Linked DNA regions of Homo sapiens. The protein of the gene in region 3 interacts with the protein of the main gene of each other region in a pairwise test. Each region holds a gene or a part of one and is shown on either strand. Other genes may lie near its edges.

Region 1 (6,851 bases), on a different chromosome or scaffold from region 3:
AAACCCCATCTCTATTAAAAATACAAAAATTAGCCAGGCATGGTGGCTCACGCCTGTAGTCCCTGCTACTCAGGAGGGTGAGACAGGAGAATCGCTTGAACCCGAGTGGCAGAAGTTGCAGTGAGCAGAGATCACGCCACTGCACTGCTGCCTGGGCAACAGAGCGGGACTCTGTCTCAAAAAAAAAAAAAAAAAGAGTAAAGCCCGGACACACACTACAACATGAACAAACCTTGAAAACATGCTAACTGAAGAAGCCAGAGAGAAAAGGCTACATATTATGATTTTATTCATATGAAATGTCCCGAATAGACAAATCCATAGAAACCAAAAGTAGATTGGAGCTTTCTAGGGGTTGGCTGGGAGGAGTAAGAATGGGGAGTAACTGTTCACGGGTTCATGGAGTTCTTTTTTTTTTTTTTTTTTTTGAGATCAGGTCTCACTCTGTTGCCCAGGCTGGAGTGCAGTGGCACAATCAGGTCACTGCAGCCTTGACCTGCTGGACTCAGGTGATCCTCCCACCTCAACCTCCTAGGTAGCTATAGGTGCATGACACCACGCCCCACTAATTTTTGTATTTTTTTGTAGAGACGAGATTTTGCCCTGTTGTTCAGGCTGGTCTCAAACACCTCAGCTCAAGCGATCTGCCCATTTGGTCCAACTAAAGTGCTGGGATTACAGGGTTGAGCCACTGCACCTGGGCCAGAGTTTCTTTTTGGAGTGATGGAAATTTTCTAAAATTGATTGTGGTGATGGTTGTACAATTCTATGAATACACTAGAAACCAGTGAGTTGCACACTTTAAACAGGTAGATTGTATAGTACGTGAATTATATCTCAATAAAGCTGTTAGAGATATTAAATATGTATAAATAAGAAAAAATAGGAATGAAATAATATGCTATCATTTGAAAAAATGATAACATGTTATCTACTCTGGCAGGATATTCAAGAAACTTGGTAACAGCAATAGATGAGGTGGAAGAGGAGGCTAGGAAGAAGATTTAATTTTGGTATCATGTTCAAGTACTCCTATTCAAATAAGTTAAGTAACTCATTTTTTTTTAATTTGGAAAGCAGGTCTGGCGTGGTGGTTCATGCCTGTAATACCTGCACTTTGGGAGGCCGAGGCGGGTCATCACCTGAGGTCAGGAGTTTGAGACCAGCCTGACCAATATGATGAAACCCCGTCTCTACTAAAAATACAAAAATTAGCCGGGCGTGGTGGCATGCCCTTGTAATCCCAGCTACTCGGGAGGCTGAGACAGGAGAATCGCTTCAACCCGGGAGGCAAAGGTTGCAATGAGCCGAGATCGTGCCATCGCACTGCAGCCTGGGTGACAGAGCAAAACTCCGTCCAAAAAAAAAAAAATTGGAAAGCAATTTGGGCCTCGTTCCTGCGACCACAGCCCCAACCTGGGTCGGGGGTCCCAGTGACCTTACCCCTCCCTGCAGACCCCAGGACGGGCGGTCTTCAGGGCTAGGCGCCCTGGCTCTGCAAGGGCCCCAGTCTGGGGTTTGGCTCACCTGTGCCTCCGAAAACCACCACCAGTTTCTTGTCCACCATGAGGACGAGAATGGGACGAATCCGGTCCAGAGATCTGGGGGTAATGGGAGGCGTGGAGTTGGGGGTGGGGCCGGGGTTCCCGCCAGGAGCGACAAAGGACACCCCCATTGTCTATGCATCGAGTATGTGTCGAAGGGGGCGGCTGGGCCCGGAGCGGCAAGACGCCTGTCCCGAGATATCGGGGTCCCGCGACCCACCTCGTGTCCCTTGGGCCCGATCCCCTCCTCCTTCCCGCCTCCCCCGGTTCCAGTCACCCGCCCCCCGGCCCGGGTCCCACCGGCTGGAGTGACCTCCTCGCCGCGGCCTGGGCGGGACAAGTTCCAGGAGCCCGGGACCCCGATTCTGCGGCCGAGTCCACTGCAGAGGCGGGGATGGAGCTGCGCGCTAGGCGCCAACTCCCTCCCCGCAGCTCCGGCCCCACCTGGCAGAGCGCCGCTCACGGAAGCCCAGCGTCGGAGGACCCCTGGCTGCAGCCGCCAATCCCGACGTGTCGGCCGAAACCCCTCCTCCGGCGCAGTTGGCTCCTCCTGGATCCCGCGGGACTCGGCGTCGTTTCCGGGTTTGCCCGCCCCAGGCACGTGCACAGTGAGTTTGTGTAAATCCAGTTAGACCAAAATGAGCGAGGTGGAGAGCCTCTTAACCGGATGCTACGGGTGATGACTGGGAGGAGGAGAAAAATTACCTCTTTATCTTGCATGAACATCTTAATTTTCAGGTATTGGGCGTCAGGCAAAGATAATTAAAGCTATGTCCATGAGTCTTATCCCTTGAGGCCTTGTCCGCTTGATATTTTCTTTGCCTAACTCACTTTTAAAATTTTATTATTTTTATTTTTTTGAGACAGTGTCTTGGTCCGTCGCCCAGGCTGGTGTGCAGTGGCGCGATCTCGGCTTACTGCAACCTCCGCCCCCCGGGTTCAAGAGATTCTCCTGCCTCAGCCTCCCGAGTAGCTGGGATTACAAGCATGTGCCACCAAGCCCGGCTAATTTTTGTATTTTTTAGTAGAGACGGGGTTTCACCAGGTTGACCAGGCAGGTCTCGAACTCCTGACTTAAAGTGATCCACCCACCTCAGCCTCCCAAAGTGCTGGGAGTACAGGTGGGAGCCACCGTGCCCAGCCCTAACTCACTTCTGAAGTTGCTGCTACTTGCACTGATTTCAGTTTTTTTTTGTTTTTGTTTTTTGTTTTCAAGGTGGAGTCTTGCTCTGTGGCCCAGGCTGGAGTGCAGTGGTGGTGCGATCTTGGCTCACTGCAACTTCCGCCTCTTGGGTTCAAGTGATTCTCCTGCCTCAGTTTCCTGAGTAGCTGGGATTACAGGCAGGAGCCACCATGCCCGGCTAAAATTTTTTTGTATTTTTGGTAGAGACGGGGTTTCAACATGCTGGCCAGGCTGGTCTCGAACTGCTGACCTCAAGTGATCTTCCCGCCTCAGGCTCCCAAAGTGCTGGGATTACAGACATGAGCCACCACACCCGGCCCACGATTTCAGTAATTTCTTTGTGTTCAGTAAAACTAAAAAATGACTCTGGGCTGGGTGCGGTGGCCTGTAATTGCAGTGATTTGGGAGGCCGAGGCGGGTGGATCACCTGAGCTCAGGAGTTCGAGACCAGCCTGGCCAACATGGTGAAACCCCCGTCTCTACTAAAAATACAAAAATTAGCCGGGCGTGGTGGCAGGCGCTTGTAATCCCAGCTATTCGGGAGGTTAAGGCAGGAGAATCGCTTGAACCCGGGAGAAGGGGGTTGCAGTGAGCCGAGATCACGTCATTGCACTCCAGCCTGGGCGACGAGCAAAACTCGGTCTCAAAAAAAGAAAAATCATTCTGTCATTCTGGCCGCTGTTTGAAGAATGCGAATAATGCAACAGGGAGATCAGATACAAGACTGGTAACCGAGGTGTCAGAGTTGAGACTCAGTTTCGCAGATTGCATTGGCAAGTGACCAAGTGGGTGGTGCCACGGTTGACAACCCTATTTCTTACATCACTGAGTGGATGTACAAGGATTAAACCACACTGGGGAAGAAAAGTGCTCAACCCTGAGGCACCCTCACACACCTCGGCTCTTGTGAACACTAGTGTTCCTGCCGAAGCACGCCTACTTACCCCGCTGAGCAGAGCCTGAGCCTGCAACCTCCAGAGACCTGGGGAAAGCCACATACTCCGCTTCCCGCCCCCGGCAAGGGCGTGTCAGCTACAAGGGGCGTGTCATCTCTAGGCCCCGCCCCGCGCTGCGTGCCCACGTTGCGCCGGCCTCGCGCCAGTCCGCTGGGCTGCAGGGACTGCGGCGCCTGAGGGAGTCGCTGACGGGCACGCTGACTGGAGGCTGGCGGACAGGCGACAGCGACCTGCGGCAGGTGAGCTGTCCGCGCCCTCCCGGGGCCTTCCTTCCGCCCGGCTTCTCGGACCGCGCTGCGTCCTTCGCGGGCCCTGCCTCGGTCCAGGCCTTCGGACCTGGGCTTGGCCGGGCCACAGCCCTTTGGGTCCCCTGCGCCGGTCTGAGGGGAGACCCGGCCGGGGGCGGCCGGAAGCTGGGTGAGGCCGGGCAGAAGGACGAAGAAGGGCGTGGAGGGGCTGTCAGGGGAGGGCGAAACCGCGGACGCCGCTCTCCAGAAGTCGTCTCCCCGGGGGCGCGGGGAGGCCTGAATGGCTCTCTTTGGCGTCCCCGTTGGGCCCACCCTCTCCCAGCGTCACGGCTATGCTGGGCGAGGTGACCCCCGGGGTCGTAGCTGGGGGCGTCGGCGGTGCAGACAGGGGATGCCGGCAGAGATTGGAGCCCGGCTTGGCTGTTTCCCGGGCTGTTGGCATTGACCGGGGCTCTGCCCTTCCTCTAATGCCCTTATCTCTATAGGAAGTGCCCCTTGAGTGGGTGTCGTGACTTCACGAGTGAACCCTGGTACGCCCTGGAGCAGAGTCGGACTGGGAGGGATCAAGTGTGGGGGCAGCCGGTTAGTCCGGACGCGGGTTTACCTATTACTTTCTGAGCGCAGTGCTCTGGGTGGATTAATTGCCCTGCAAAAGCTGCCGGGACCTCCTTGCAGTCTTTGCACGAGGCCTGCCTGTGTCATGCCATTTAAATCGCGTCTGGGCCGGGTCGGTGGCTCACGCCTGTAATTCCAGCACTTTGGGAGGCCAGGGCGGGCGGATTGCTTGAGGTCAGGAGTCCGAGACCAGCCTGGCCAACATAGTGAAACCCCGTCTCTACTAAAAATACAAAAATCAGCCGGGCATGGTAACGTGAGCCTGTAGCTCCAGCTACTTAGGAGGCTGAGGCAGGAGAATCGCTTGAACCCGGGAGGCAGAGGTTGCAGTGAGCCGAGATCACGCCATTGCACTCCAGCCTGGGCGACAGAGCAAGACTCCATCTAAAAAAAAAAAAAAAAAAAAAAAAAATCGCTTCTGATGAGCCGGTTGTCGTGGCCTGTGGCTGTCCATCCTTACGTACTGTGTTTTGTTGATGGCGCTACAAACCAGACAAGGTGGAGTGTGATTGAAGAAAGAAACGCTGGCCGGTGCAGTGGCTCACTCCTGTAATCCCAGCACTTTGGGAGGCCGAGGCAGGCGGATCACCTGAGGTCAGGAGTTCGAGATCAGCCTGGCCAACATGGTGAAACCCCGTCTCTACTAAAAATACAAAAAAGTTAAACGGGCGGGGTGGCGCGTGTCTGTAATCCCAGCTACTGGGGAGTTTGAGGTTGGAGGATCACTTGAGCCCACGAAGTGGAGATTGCAGTGAGCTGAGATCGCATCACTGCACTCCAGCCTGGGTGACAGAGTGAGACCCTGTCTCAAAAAAGAAAAAAATAAATTATCACAAGACAAAATTTGTGCTTATCAGGAGTTCACAGTTAAGACATATATAAGCTTACTTGGTGAAATTAGAAAAAGTTATCAGATAAAACATTCAGGTTTAAACACTGGTGAGGGTGTGGGAATTTGTGGAGCCTTGGAAACACACTCATTGAATGACCTCATCTACCTGGGGATGTGAAGAGGGAAATCCTGTGATTCCTCCATTGTCTGACTTGATTTCCTTTTTTCCTTGGCTGTGGCAACATGTTGAAGTGCTGTGAGTCACCAAAAGGGGGAACGTGAGCAACTCTAGAAATGCCAGTGCCAGTGAGTTACAGACAATAAAGCATTGACCGCCTTTAGCTCACCCCTCATCAAGTCTGTTGAAAACTTGTAAAATTGGACAGCTAGAGCTACCTTGATTTTTTGGTTTCCTTTTAACAGCTGACTCTCTTCACAGGACAGTTGGGCTCTACATCAGGATTGCACCCAAAACTGGAATATCACTCCTCCAGGAGGAAGATATATTTGAAAATTAGAATTGTGGGCCCGGTGCAGTGGCTCATGCTTGTGATCCCAGCACTTTGGGAGGCCGAGATGGGCGGATCACCTGAGGTCGGGAGATAGAGACCAGCCTGACCAACATGGAAAAACCCCATCTCTACTAAGAAAAAAATAATAATAATACAAAAATTAGCTGGGCATGGTGGTGTGTGCCTGTAATCCGAGCTACTTGGGAGGCCGAGGCAGGAGAATCACTTGAACCTGGGAGGCAGAGGTTGCGATGAGCCAAGATTGTGCCACTGCATTCCAGCCTGGGCAACAGGAGCAAAACTGCATCTCAAAAAAAAAAAAAAGAAAGAAAGAAAATTAGAATTGTGTATTTCACTGTAAAATTTGAAATTCAGCTTTAACTCCTTGGAAAGGAAAGAGATGAAAAACTTGACCTAGACTGGGTGCGGTGGCTCACGCCTGTAATCCCAGCACTTTGGGAGACCAAGGCGGGTGGATCACCTGAGGTCAGGAGTTCGAGACCAGCCTGGCTAACATTGTGAAACCCCGTCTCTACTAAAAATACAAAAATTAGCCTTGCAAAAAGTAGCCTGTAATCCCAGCTACTCGGGAGGCTGAGCAAGGAGAATTGCTTGAACCTGGGAGGCAGAGGTTTCAGTGAGCCAAGATCATGCCATTGCACTCCAGCCTGGGCGACAAGAGCAAAACTTCATCTCAAAGAAAAAAAAATTCTATCAGAGTGAACAATAAGTAGGATGCTAGCACATACCTGTAATCTCAGCTACTTGGGAGGCTGAGGCAGGAAGTTAATACTTGATGAGCCTAAGTTTTTGGTGTCTTTGGATGCTGCTTGTCGATCTAAGGGGTTTCCAAACGCTTCTTTTTTGGTAAAATTGGGATTATGACTAGGAATCTGTTTTTTGGAGTTTCCCAGGTGATCCTTGTTTGGGGTCCTTGTCTAAGGCACAGGCTGGAAAGAGG
Region 2 (7,038 bases), on a different chromosome or scaffold from region 3:
TTTTTGCATTTTTTAGTAGAGACGGGGTTTGGCCATGCTGGCCAGGCTGGTCTCAATCTCCTGACCTCAGGTGATCCACTCGCCTTGGCCTCCCAAAGTGCTGGGGTTACAGGCATAAGTCACCACGCCTGGCCAGAATATGTGTTTTGGTTCAAGACAACCAAAATAGTAGTAGGCAGCTAAGGCGGCTTTCCTTGCAACAAAACCAGATAAAAAGACTCCTGGATAAAGCGCCCTTCACCCCTCCCTGCCTCTTGCTTTCCCATCAGCCTACTTGCCACGTTCCCCTGCAGCTACAGGGCAGAAGTGGCCAACACAGAGATCCACACTCTCTCGAAAAGTCAGCCTCCAGATTCTTTCTCCTCCTTCCCCTCCTCCTCCATGTCAGTAAGCACTGAGAGCTGTTACCTACACCCAACTTGTGGCAGGGGCGTTGGCAGCACAAGCTCCGTATTTTGCTCGTTTCCAGTGTTTCACTGGAAAAAAGTATGGACCATGACTCCAGATGACGAGTCTTCAGAAAACACCATTCCTGAGAGACTGTGTTTAATATCCTCTCCCAGTTTGAAAAGGAGTTTGTTTTCTTACATCTTTTTTTAATTGCCATGAGCTGGACTTGTAAATATTGTAAGTGGTTGAGTAATACTCATCTGGTAAACTGACCAAAGGAAATGGACATTTTTTTCCACTCTTGTAACCCTGGCATCCCATGCCTGCCCCTGAAAGGGACTCTTGAGTATTGGAAGGGAAAATCTGCCTCGCCAGGTGCCAGCGGGCCCAGGGCAGGAGCTGAGTGAAGCGCAGAGAAACGATCCCGAAGTCAGGAGCCGCAGCAGGTGTTCTGTGCTAGGGTTGGGGGCAGAGAGCATTCATTGTTTAAGAAGTTGGCAGCCTCCCAGAAGTTCAACTGTCTTTCCTTGTTCTGAAATGTCAAACATTTCCTTAGCTGGGGGAATGGATGAGTAGACCCCCCTGAGGTTTAAGAACTATTCTGAGGCAGAAGAAGGAAGTTCTGCTTTTCACACGTGACCGAGTACGATGTGAGGTCCCATGTCCCTCCGGCAGGGGGGTCGGCTGCGCCCCTGAAACTGGAGCCACCTTCCTACATCAGAAGAGTTGCCAGCTCTTCCCTGCCTCTGCCTTTAGGAACCGTCAGACCCTCTGTGGTTATGTGGGTAGTGGGGGAGTGTGTGTGTCTTTTTAATGGTGCCTTTTAGTGATACTTACTGAAATATTTGTAGATGACCTATGTCTGGAATTTGTTTCAAAATAATATGCAGGAGACAGGGAGCAGGTGAGGGTTTGCATAAAGCCAGACAGGCCATGAATGGATCCTTGCGAAAGCTGACGGATGGGCTCATCACTGTTCTGCGTGCCCTTCGGTCTGCTTTTGTATATGTTTAAAATTTTCCATCATAAAACGTTAAGGAAGGGAAGGAGGGAGGGAGAAAGAGAAGAGGATGAAAAGAGAAGAAACTCTTGATCCCGGTGTTTCAACCCCAGTGAGTCTGAGCCTCTCTCCCCGAGGGACCCCCACACTGTCTCGAATCAGGATGCCTCCACTCAAGCTCCACTGGTGTAGACAAGGGTGAGCGTGTGGGCAGAGGGGTCCTACCCACCTGGATTCCAATTCTAGTTCTTCCTCTTACCCGCCAGAGGGCCTTAGGTAGGAGAGTTCACCTTCCAGAACCCCAGCTTCCTCAGATATAAAACAGAGATGAGGGTTACTTACTGTGCAGAATTAAACCAAGTAATACACCCATAGCACTTAGTGCCAAACCTGGCACGCATGACTGTTTCATGAACGGTGTGGCTCAGCTTTCCCTGGCTTCAAAAAGATCCCTGCTTACTCATTCCGAAACATCCTTCAGAGGAGAGAAACTCCATTCAGAAAGGTGCCAGAGCTGGGATCACATTCGAAGAAAGCCAAACTTCTTAAAGAAAAAGGATTGCCGTGCTAAGGTAGATAAACACCTTCTCTTTGACCCAAAGAATCCAAAAGACAGCAGTTGGCTTTTGCTTATCGCTGTCACCTGCCATCTTAAAACGACCTCCTCAGTTGACCCTCAGTATATACCAGTTTACTTAAGCCTGTTTAAAGTCTCCCCCTGTTTGCTCTGAAAGGGTTTAAAATATAAAAGCCTTATTTGTCATGGCTCCTAAAATCCTCCTTTTCATCTTGGGACAAGAACCCAGTTTATCACATCTTATCAGCTTACTGTCCAAGATGTCCATCACTCAAGTTCATTTTCATTTATTTATTTATTTATTTATTTATTTATATATTTATTTATTTATTTATTTATTTATTTTGAGATGGAGTCTTGCTCTGTTGCCCAGGCTGGAGTGCAGTGGCACAATCTCAGTTCACCACAACCTCCGCCTCCCGAGTTCAAGTGATTCTCCTGCCTCAGCCTCCCAAGTAGCTGGGACTACAAGCGTGCACCACCATGCCCGGTTAATTTTTGTATTTTTAGTAGAGACGTGGTTTCTCTGTGTTGGCCAGGCTGGTCTCAAACTCCTGACCTCAGATGATCCGCCCGCCTTGGCCTCCCAAAGTGCTGGGATTACAGGCGTGAGCCACAGCGCCTGGCCCATTTTCATTTTTTATAGATAATGTGTGCCCTGTCATGCCTTTCCTGGGGCACAGTTTGTCTAATTCACAGCATCTGTGGTAGAAAAATTAGCAGCTTAGCCACCACTGTATTAATAATAGTTCCACTAGACCCACCCACCATGCGCTAAAACTGTACTATGAAAGGTCTCTGCAGCTCTTCTGTGGAAGAGCATTCTTCTATCTTGTCTCTGTAGTATTGTGGGTTGGCATTGGCCACTTTTTGAATTTTCTTACTCATTGGCCTTCTTGCCACATTTTCTCAGCTTCTCCCTCTCTGCTGACCACTCCTTCTATGCCTCTCTTGACTCTTCTTATCCCTTCCAAAAATTCAATACATTTACTCATTTGTTTTATACACACACACACACATGCACACACGTGCGCGTGTGTGTGTGCCTCTTTCCTGTGCCAGGCTCTGTTCTAGGTACGGGGGATATGGCGGTGAACGAGAACCCACAGTCCCTGGTGTAGATGTTCATGTGTCCAGGAGAGACAGACAGTAACTGAGTACCTAAATAATGATTCAAGGCCGGGCGCGGTGGCTCACGCCTGTAATCCCAGCACTTTGGGAGGCCCAGGAGGGCAAATCACTTGAGGTCAGGAGTTCGAGACCAGCCTGGCCAACATGGTGAAACCCTGTCTCTACTAAAAATACAAAAATTAGCCGGGCATAGTGGTGGGCACCTGTAATCCCCGCTACTTGGGAGGCTAAAGCAGGAGAATTGCTTGAACCCAGGAGGCGGAGGCTGCAGTGAGCCAAGATCACGTCACCGCACTCTAGCCTGGGCGCGAGACTCCATCTCAAAAAAAAAAAAGATTTAATAAGAGTTACCATGGAAACTTAGGGGGGCAAAGAGGGCACAGGTAACTGGAGGATGACAAAGAGTTCTTTGGGAAAATGCCACTGAGTTTGAGGGATTAACTAGACCACGAGTGGGGAGCTCCCGGATGGAAAGGATAGCGCGTGTCGAAGCTGGGAGGCAGGGCCCCTACCTTCTGCATCAGCCTGTTGGGGGCACCGGAGACAGCCAGGATGGCTCAAACACAGCGCGCAGAGTGCGGCTGCAGGGTTGCTGGGTCAGACTGTGCAAGACCCCCTTGGCCACTGTAAAGTTTGGATCTCAGTTTCAGCCACTGGAGGATTTAAGCAAGGAGGTGACCTGATCTCCTTTACATTCTGAAAAGCTTGCTGTAGTTCCATCGTGGAGCAGGGACCGGGGAAAGCAGTCCCTCACTGCAGGGAGCCAAATCAGGGATGGCAGTGACTGCGCATGCCTTGAGGCCTCTTCCCTTGGACCTCACGCTCCGGGTGTATGAACCAAAACCAGATGTGTGTTTTCTTCTTCCCAATCAGTTGTTGTTCTTGATTTCTTTGTTCTTGTCACTTGCTCCGCTCTTCTCATAATCACCCTGATTTGACAATTCACGGTCATTCATACTGGCCTCTGCTCCAGGCCATCAGAGCCTCAGTGTGGAGCCTGCCTTGATGCATGGAGCTTCTGGGCCCAAGTGTCCTCCCAACTGTGATCCCACTGGAGCTTCAGGAGCAGTACCTCTTCCTAAAACACCTCTCATCCTCTCCCTCATCTCCTCAGCTGCCAGCCCCTCCCTGTCATCTTAGGGTGAGCCCAGGCCCTGGAGTGCCAGGGATTGCCCCTTCGCCCCATCCCAGCCTGTGCCTGCCTCCTCATTCTCGTTATCTTCTCCTCATGTTGCGCAACATAAACCTTCACCCAGCCAGGACCAAGTCTTCAGCTGATCACCACACAGGCACCAGAATAACCAAGAACTAGTGAAGCTCCTGCCCAGGGGAGCTTTTGGTCAACCTGAAGATGTTTCTGGAGCAGAAATCAGTGAAAAGATTTGTTCTTCTGCTTCTGGCAAGAAGATGGACTAAGATATTCTCACATACACACACATACGCATACACACACACACCCGTATCCCTACCTTCTCACTGCAGATGGACTAAGATATTCACACACACACACACACACACACACACACACACACACCCCTACCCCTGCCTTCTTGCTGCAAGCATCTTGAAATGTGAGGTAAAATAGTGTAACTCCACCCACCCACAAATGTTAATGCAGGGCTGAATTTACAAGGAAGAAAGGAAATCCCTAGATGAAAGAAATGAAGAGCGCATTGAAGGCCAGCGCCTAAGTGGGCGAACTGATGCTGCAGGTGGGTCATCATCATGATGATGGAGAGCAGGAGCTAGCAAGCCTCTGGAAGAGGCCAGGTCGTAAACGGTTTAGGCTGTGCAGACCACAGACGGTGTCACATCTCCTCCTTTTACCTTTTTGACAACCCTCTACAAATATAAAAACCATTGTTAGCTCATGGGTTGCACAAAAACAGAGCACAGCTAGATTTGGCCCATGAACCAAAGTTGGCAGAGCCTTGAGGTAGACTAGGATGAGGTTTTCATCTACAGGAAGACGGGGGAGAAACCTTGGGGCCCCAAGAGAAGCGTTTCTCAAAAGATTGGATCATCAGAGAAAGAGCCCATATCAGAAAAATGCAACCACAGTCACAGGTAGATGACAAAGAAGCTTGCCCTAGTTTTTTTTTTTATTTTCGTTTTCTTTTTTTTTTTTTTTTGAGACAGAGTTTCACTGTTGTTGCACAGGCTGTATTGCAGTGGTGTGATCTCAGCTCACTGCAACCTCCGCCTCCCGTGTTCAAACGATTCTCTTGCCTTAGCCTCCCAAGTAGCTGGGATTACAGGCACCCACCACCACACCTGGCTAATATTTTTTTTTTTTTTGAGACAGAGTCTTGCTCTGTTGCCCAGTTTGGAGTGCAGTGGCGCAATCTCGGCTCACTGCAAGCTCCGCCTCCCGGGTTCACGCCATTCTCCTGCCTCAGCCTCCCAAGTAGGTGGGACTACAGGCGCCTGCCACCACGCCAGGCTAATTTTTTGTACTTTTAGTAGAGATGGGGTTTCACCATGTTAGCCAGGATGGTCTCGATCTCCTGACCTCATGGTCCGCCCGCCTCGGCCTCCCAAAGTGCTGGGATTACAGGCGTGAGCCACTGCGCCCGGCCAATTTTTTAAATATATTTTTAGTAGAGACGGGGTTTCACCATGTTAGCCAGGCTGGTCTCGAACTCCTGACCTCAGATGATCTGCCCGCCTCGGCCTCCCAAAGTGCTGGGATTACAGGCATGAGGCACCGTGCCCGGCCTATTTTTTTAAATATATTTTTAATAGAGATGGGGTTTCACCATGTTGGTCAGGCTGGTCTCGAACTCCTGACCTCAGATGATCCGCCCGCCTTGGCCTCCCAAAGTGCTGGGATTACAGGTGTGAGCCACTGCACCCAGCCACTTGCCATACATTTTTAAGTCTCTTCAATATTCAAAACCATGGTGCAGTGCCCACATGGGTTGAGCTTAAGATTGGTATGGCCTGATCCACATTGAACCCTGAGGATCTGTGGAGGGGATTCGGGAAGCCCGTGAACTTGGACCGGAAAGCAAATTGGACTCTTATGTTCACAAATGTCTAATTGAAATTTAGCATTTTCTTTGCTCACGAACATATGCCACAGACTACCGTGGCGTTCAGCAGTCCTGATGGCTGTGCAACCATGTGACCCTGCACACGTGGCTCTCCCTGTTACTTTCTGAAGCATTTTCATGGACCTCTCCTCCTCTGCTACCCACCTCTCTCGTGGGGCCTTGGCAGCTCAAGGACTCTTCAGTGAGCAAACCTTTCTTGAGTGCTTACTTTGTAGTAGGGCGCCCCTTCTCTGTTATGCTATACCTTGTCGCCGCTGGTACCTGGCACGTGGTAAACACTCGTTAAATACTGGGCAAGCGAACATGGGAGACAGTGAGCTCATTGCACTAAGTGAGGGCTGCATTCTGTGGGGCCCACTTCATCAGCATCAGGTGAAGGAACAGGCAATGGTCAGTGCAGACACACGACCCAGAGGAGGCAGGGCGGGGCTGGAAGGCAGAGTGGCACCCAGCATGGGCTGGCTAGGAGGGCCTGTGCTCTCCAGCCAAAAACGTCAGGAAATGAAACTAGCAAATACTAGCAGAAAAAGTATATATCAAAACAAGCACCTCTATCGGTGAATATTTTTACAAATGGGTGACTTAAGGATCTTGGACTCAAGAACACAAAGTGAAGCCATGTGGAGAATGGAGAAATGGGTTCTAGAATGCTCTCCTAAGCCCTTTGCTTTATCAATGCGTCATCAATGCATAATCTGATTGGGTAGTGAGGGTGGCTGTCGTCAGCAGCTTGCGCCCTCCCTTGTGGTCCAAGGTGTACACAGATGCTAGAGTTAGGGGCCTCACCCCCTCCTGGCTTGAGTGCTGCCTGGGGGGGCCTGGCCACACCCAGGCCCCTGCCTTCTGCACTCAGCATCCTGCAAAGCCAGAGCTGTGTAGCAGCA
Region 3 (7,038 bases):
TGAGAGCACAAACTGGAGCCAGACTGCTTGGGGGTGTGGGGATCTGGCTGTGCTCTGTGATCGCTGTGTGACCTTGGGCAGGTCACTTAACCTTTCTGGTACTGCGTTTCTTCATCTGCAAAATGGGAGTAATATCATAGGGATGCTGTGAGGATCTAAATGAGTTAATACTGATGAACTAACTGCTTAGAACAAGGTTTGCCCCTTACTAAATACTGTGCACGGTGGTAATAAGTAATAATAATTGATTTCTCCTACTTTTCTTCCTCTAGTCTATATCACTACCCTTCAGACACACTGGACTCTTTTCTCTCCTTCATACAAGTCAAGCCTTTTTCTGTCTCCAAGTCTCTGCTCTTGCTGTTTTCTTTACCTGTGTTCTCTCTCACATATCACTTTATGCTCTTCAGATCCTTTGTCGCAATGTCACCCTTATGTTTTATGGTATGGTCCTGCTGTGTTTTTGTCTTCCCTGACTGCATGCTCACTCGTGCTCTCTCTCAATCATGCGCTCTCTCTCTCTCTCCCTCCCTCCCTCTCTCTCCCTCCCTCTCCCTCCCTCCCTCCCCCCCACTCTCAACTGTGTATTCTAGAGAGTCAGGACCTTCCTTCTCATTCTTGATCATTCTCATAGTAGCCCTGCCCCTTGAGTGGAACATGGCATTTAGTAAAGGATGAATAAGGGAAGGAATCATTCTGAGAAAATACTGAAGATGATAGCTATGGACTTGAGGCAAGCATCCCATTTAGGTAAAATGCTTTGTCCGACATTGAATTTATCATATCAGCTTCATTTAATGCATTATGAGATGTTGTCTTTATTTTTCCTTCTGTATCCCATGGCTTCTCACCATTCCCCTCCCCCTCCACCCCGCCCTCTGAGGTTGCTGCCTGCAGACCATGGGAAACATCCAGTGGGTTGTCCCTGGGATCACATCTCTTGGGAAGCTCAGCTCCAAAGGGTCTAGCAAAGCCCAGGGCTTCTAGGTTAGGTATCTCCCACAGAACCTTCTGTGTCAAGAATCTGGGAAAGTTTGTCCTTATACCTGCAGGGGAACCTGGAATTTATTCTGTCTTGTTATAAATCTAGTATTCTTAGATTCCTGAAGAACAGAATTACCAGTTTTTTCTCAGAGGAGATTTCATCAGGCATGTGTGTTTAGTGCCTTATTACACAGAAGGCACACTCCAGAGAAGAAGAAAGCAGGTAATTTGCTTATTTGGCTTTAACAGAGTTTCAACAGAGTTCGTGTGAGTGCAAGCTTGTGCTCTATAACCAAGAACCATTCACTGGAACTTGAGCATCCTGCTGATCTTCCCTCCCCCACTCCCAGCCAGTGCAGCCATGTATTAAGCAATTGTTTTCAGTACCAACAGTTTACCAAAGTGTTGGAATAAAAACGACATCTAAAACTTGAATATTTTATATGGCCAAACTATGGCTATTTAACTATACAGTTGAATATATTTGGATTATAACATATTTATCTCTTAAAGGGACAGATCTTCCATCCTCCTAACATATAGTTAGCTTCCACTCTCCAAATATTCCACCAGCAACATTGATGAATATTGAAGACTATGGACTGTGAGGTACTGTGAAAGACCCACTCTAGGACCTGCTTGCTGCTATTTGCCTTACTTGAACCAGTAATCAAGTGCTGGATAAATAATATGATTTCTATTCAACTTTTTGTTTTTAGCCCTTAGGGAACAATCTACTGAATATGCAATGCAATTGTCGGGGGATAGTTACTTTTCATTACCTAGGTTTCTGTTCCTTCTTTTAAGTGTAATTTAAATCTGGCTGTCATGAAGGTTTGGCGCTCAAACAGATTTTAGCATCTGTTTAATGTAGAAGTGGACTGGAACTAGCATTCTGAAAATGTAGTCTGAACCCAAAGAAATCCCATGACTCTCCTTTTCTGTCCTATCATAGAAACAGATAATTACATTTTTAAAGTTTTTGTGTGTGGGTGTGTGTGTTGTCATTTTGAGGTGGGGTTTCACCATGTTGCCCAGGCTAGACTCAAACTCCTAGGCTGAAGCAGTCCTCCCACCTCAGCCTCCCAAGTAGCAGGGATTACAGGTGTGCACTACTGCACCCAGCTTAAGTTTTACTTTGTTTCTAATAGATATATAATATTGGATATATTTATGAGATACAGTGTGATGTTTTAGTACGTATATACATTGTGTAATGAGCAAGAGGATTGCGTTTATGGGCCAGGCACGGTGGCTCATGCCTGTAACCCCAGCACTTTGGGAAGCCAAGGTGGGTGGATCACCTGAGGTCAGGAGTTCGAGACCAGTCTGATCAACATGGTAAAAACCCATCTCTACTAAAAATACAAAAATTAACCGGGGCGTGGTAGCACACACCTGTAGTCCCAGCTACTTAGGAGGCTGAGGCAGAAGAATCACTTGAACCTGGGAGGCAGAGGTTGCAGTGAGCTGAGATGGCACCACTGCACTCCACCCTGGCAACACAGTGAGACTCCGTCTCAAAAAAAAAAAAAATTGTTTTTATGTTACTTCCCTCTAGGCTCTTTAATTTCTCCATTGAGCATTGTGTGAGCTCCGCTGAGCATTGTATGGAGGGTCAGCTGCCCTGGCTGGAGATGGTTTTGAGGCTTGTTCCTTCGTGGAAACATCTGGATGCAGAAGTTAGGCTGTACAACTATCCAGGGGAGCTTTAAGTGAGCCAAGTGGACCCTCAGCACCACCTCAGAGTGTTCTAAGCTACCGTCTGGTGTTTGGGACTCAGGGAAGTCCTTTTGGTATGATCAGACTAGCCCTTTATGTGACTATCCTTGTGTGTTACTCTCATTAAAATATTGATTTTTGCCATGTAAGGAAGATTGGAATAGCACAGGCAGCCGAATAAGGATTTTAATGAAACATTGGAGAATGGCTTCAAGTTAATCTGTGAATGCTTTGTCATTGTCCCATCCCTGGACACATTAAAAAGAAAAAAAAGAGCAGTTGAGAAATTGCAGTACAATTTGAGGAGAGCAATATCATACACAGAAGTAGGGACTACTTTTGTCAAAGCTGGATTTTATTTATTTGGGAGCAAAGAGAGAGAGCTGAAAGACATAATCTTCTCTCCCTTAAGAATCTCATTGTCATTTAGTAAAATAAAAGGTAGTGTCACTTCATGGCTCAGAAGTGGTAAATTATTTGAGGCAGGTACCCAAATCCATAAAGCCTGCCTTTTGCTTTGTTTGTGGAATGCTGATTGTGTGCTGGGGAATTTCTGATGGGCAGCCAAGAGGAATTTGGGAAGTAGTGAAGGAGACCTTTACCCCAGGAGTGTTCTATTGGATGTAGTTCAGGAAGCTTTCTGGGTAAGCCTTGCAACCAAAGGAACCCTGCCCCAGTAAGATACGTCAAATGGTGGCAGAAGCAAGAATTAGAGGAAAGGTTGAGCAACATTTTGGTATTTGAATAGCTGTGTTCCCAGGAAACTCTGTCAGTAAAATTTCTAGAGGTTAAGTACCTTAGCCAGATGTCATAATGAACCCCTGTGTTGCTAACTCAAATGCTGGAATGGAGCATGTGTTTTAGGAGTTAGACCAACACTGCCTCATCTTAAGCCCAAGTCTGATCACTCCTAAACTGAAACTTTGCAAATGTGTGTGTTGTAGCTTACTTAAAACCCATTGGGTGTCTGCTAACTCTGGCTACACTGAAAAGTTTTTGCTATTCTACCACCCACGGACGTCAGAGCCCTGCTGCTTACCAGGGCATGTTAGTCTCCTAATCTACCCCTGAAAACCTACCATGGCCCGGGGCTTTTCTGCTACCCCCCACGTCCTATACCCTGCTTGCTTCAAAATACTGTTCCTAGTTTTCTTCCCCTAACTTGATAATGTACTCCAAAACAATCATGTTTGGCAAGTAATACACTGATAAATGTAAAAGTTACAAATAGAAGTGCTGCTGTGTTTTTAAAACATTATAGGGCCAGGAGCAGTGGTTCATGCCTCTTATCCCAGCACTTTGGGAGGCTGAGAGAGGCAAATTGCTTGAGCTCAGGAGTTCGAGACCAGCCTGGCCAACATAGCGAAACCCCGTCTGTACTAAAAATACAAAAAATTAGCTGGGCATGGTGGCACACACCTGTAATATCAGCTACTTTGAGGCAGAAGGATTGCTTGAGTCCAGAGGTCAAGCCTGCAGTGAGCCCTGATTGTGCCACTTCCACTCCAGCCCGGATGACAGAGGGGGACCCTGTCTCAAAACAAAAACAAAACAAAACAAAAACCCAGCCAGGTACGGTGGCTCACACCTGTAATCCCAGCACTTTCGGAGGCCAAGGAGGGTGGATCACTTGAGGTCAGGAGTTCAAGACCAGCCTGGCCAACATGGCGAAACCCTGTCTCTACTAAAATACAACAATTAGCTGGGCATGGTGGTGCATGTCTGTAATCTCAGCTACTTAGGAGGCTGAGGCAGGAGAATCACTTGAACCCAGGAGGTGGAGGTTGCAGTGAGCCAAGATCGTGCCACTGCACTCTGCCACTCACTCTAGCCTGTGGGACAGAGAGAGACTCCGTCTTAAAAAAAAAAAAAAACCCACATTCTAGAAATAATTAGGTTTCTAAAGTATTCTTAAAAGGGGCATCTGTGGAAACCAGCCACTAATAACATATTTAAAGGAGAGAGACTGAATGCTTCCCCCTAAGATGAGGAAAGAGGCAAGGATGTCGGCACTTGCCACTGGTATTCAACATTGCATTGCCCCTAACCAGGACAATCAGTCAAGAAAAAAAAATAAATAAAAGACATCCACATTGGAAAGGAAGAAGTAAAACTGTCTCTCTTTGCAGATGGTATGATCCTCTATGTAAAGTATTCCAACGATCGTGGATCTGTCTCTCCCTCCCCTATGCTCTTGGGCCCTGGCTCTGTTTCTCTCCTGGAGTAGAAGCCTGTGGTGCAGCAGGATTCAATTGCCTTCAATTGAACGTTGCAGAGGACTTTCCCCTCGGTGCTTCCCGTACTGGGGGAAGAGGTGATTTAACTTCTGAGTAAGGGACAAACCCAGTAGTGTGTTAGTAGCAAAAAGCATGGACACTGGCATCAGTCTGCCTGTATTCAGACACCAGCTGTGCACTCATCAGCTGTGGGACCTTAGGCAAATTGTTGAATTTCTCTTTGCCTCCATTTCCTCATCCATAGAATGGGGATAATAATAGTAACTATCATATGGGATTGTTGTAAGGATGGAAAGTGTTAAAATATCTAAACTCTGTTACAGTGCCTGCCATAAAAGAAGCACTCTAGGCCTGGCGCGGTGGCCCATGCTTGTAATCCCAGCACTTTGGGAGGCTGAGGCAGGTGGACTGCTTGAGGTCAGGAGTTCGAGACCAGCCTGGCCAACATGGCGAAACCCCATCTCTACTAAAAATACAAAAATTAGCTGGGTGTAGTGACATGTGCCTGTGATCCCAGCTACTCTGGAGGTTGAGGCATGAGAATTGCTTGAACCCGGGAGGCAGAGGCTGCAGTGAGCTGAGATAGCACCCCTACACTCCAGCCTTGGTGACAGAGCAAGACCCTGTCTCAAAACAAAACAAAACAAAAGAAGCACTCTATGGGACCAGGTCTTATAGTTAGGTATTATATATGTAGTAGTGATATTTTCAGTTTTGCTGTTTCTGCCAGATGGGATGAAAAATTCCATGAGAAGTTGGCTGGAAGTCCTACTGATTCATTAAATAGGCCTTTCATTTGAAGTCATGTTTCTAATCATTCAGAAGTTGAGGTATGCCTGATCCATGGTATTAGAAGGGATGATCCCAGAGAGGTCATTCTGTAGCATAATGAGCATTACTTTTGAAGGATGGAGAACCTAGAACTCTGACTCATTTGACTATGGGAAAATCTGATCTGGTGAGTGACCATGACCATGAAGTGAGATCTGGTAACCCAATGGTGGTCACAGGATAGAGACTCTGAAGATACTGAGCTGGCTTACACACTTGCTTTGTTGTCTCGAACCTCTGTTAAAGCTGAAAGAAGAAGTCAGTCTTCTGCTGGGCACACTGTTAGTGTGTAATTGTGAAGAGCTTAGCTGGAGCTTGCTCTTCACAACAGTCTCTGATCTCATCAGCCCCATTCTGTTTTCAGGGGTGGTACAGAAGGAGCACCTCAGGAGCCTCCAAAGATAGTAGTAGAATATAACCACCAAGACAAGACTGTGACTGTGGTTTTGAATCAGATAGAATCACCACCTCCTGCAAATTTTGTTTTTGCTCAGAACAGTGGTTCTTAAAATGTGGTCCTTGACCAACATCATCAGCATTACCTAGGAACTAGTTAGATATGATAATACTCAGGCCCCACCTAACATGACTGAACCAGAAACTCTGGGACTGAGGTATGTTTTAACAAACTCTCCAGGTGATTTTAATGCCACCAAAGTTTGAGAACCACTGATCTAGGATATAGAACAGCAGCATTCTACTGAGTTTCTGTCTTCATGCAAGTTGCTATAAAAAATATAAGCAAGGAGACACGCTCTCTGTCCTCAAAGAGCACATAGTCCATCTAGAGAGGTATACTATATTCAATGCCACACAAAGGAGGCCTTCCCAGCCGGGATCCTGATGCAACAGCCCTGCCCAGTCTCTATGCCATTGCCGTGTGTTTTCCCCAGAAGAGTTCCCATTCTTGGCCAGGTGCCTGTAATCCTAGCACTCTGGGAGGCTGAGGCAGGTGGATCACCTGAGGTCAGGAGTTCGAGACCAGCCTGGCCTACGTGGTGAAACCCCGTCTCTACTAAAAATACAAAAATGAGCCTGGTGTGATGGTGGGCACCTATAATCCCTGCTACTCGGGAGGCTGAGGAAGGAGAATCACTTGAACCCAGGGGGCGGAGGTTGCAGTGAGCCTAGATCGTGCCACTTCACTCTAGCCTGGGGGGAAGAGCAAAACTTTGTCTCAAAACAAAAAAAGAGTTCCCACTCCCTGAAGCTGTTTTTTGTTTGCATGTTTGTTGTCAGTCTCCTGTCATCATTCGAAGGTCAG

What was found.
Region 1: the proteins of MGST3 (region 3) and HMOX2 interact in binary tests that used the Homo sapiens proteins (3 or more experiments, as listed by UniProt).
Region 2: the proteins of MGST3 (region 3) and STX8 interact in binary tests that used the Homo sapiens proteins (3 or more experiments, as listed by UniProt).

What each region holds. Positions count from the first base shown.
Region 1 is NC_000016.10:4,472,566-4,479,416, forward strand, and holds the start of HMOX2 (heme oxygenase 2), read left to right. Parts: upstream 1-3,832; 5' UTR 3,833-3,922; exon of another isoform or gene 3,923-4,100; intron 4,101-6,698; exon of another isoform or gene 6,699-6,851. Other genes in the region: NMRAL1 (nmrA-like family domain-containing protein 1), read right to left, coding at 1,528-1,567.
Region 2 is NC_000017.11:9,250,802-9,257,839, reverse strand, and holds part of STX8 (syntaxin-8), read left to right. Parts: intron 1-7,038. UniProt on the Homo sapiens protein: Vesicle trafficking protein that functions in the early secretory pathway, possibly by mediating retrograde transport from cis-Golgi membranes to the ER.
Region 3 is NC_000001.11:165,634,230-165,641,267, forward strand, and holds part of MGST3 (glutathione S-transferase 3, mitochondrial), read left to right. Parts: intron 1-7,038. UniProt on the Homo sapiens protein: Displays both glutathione S-transferase and glutathione peroxidase activities toward oxyeicosanoids, as part of cellular detoxification as well as synthesis of bioactive metabolites.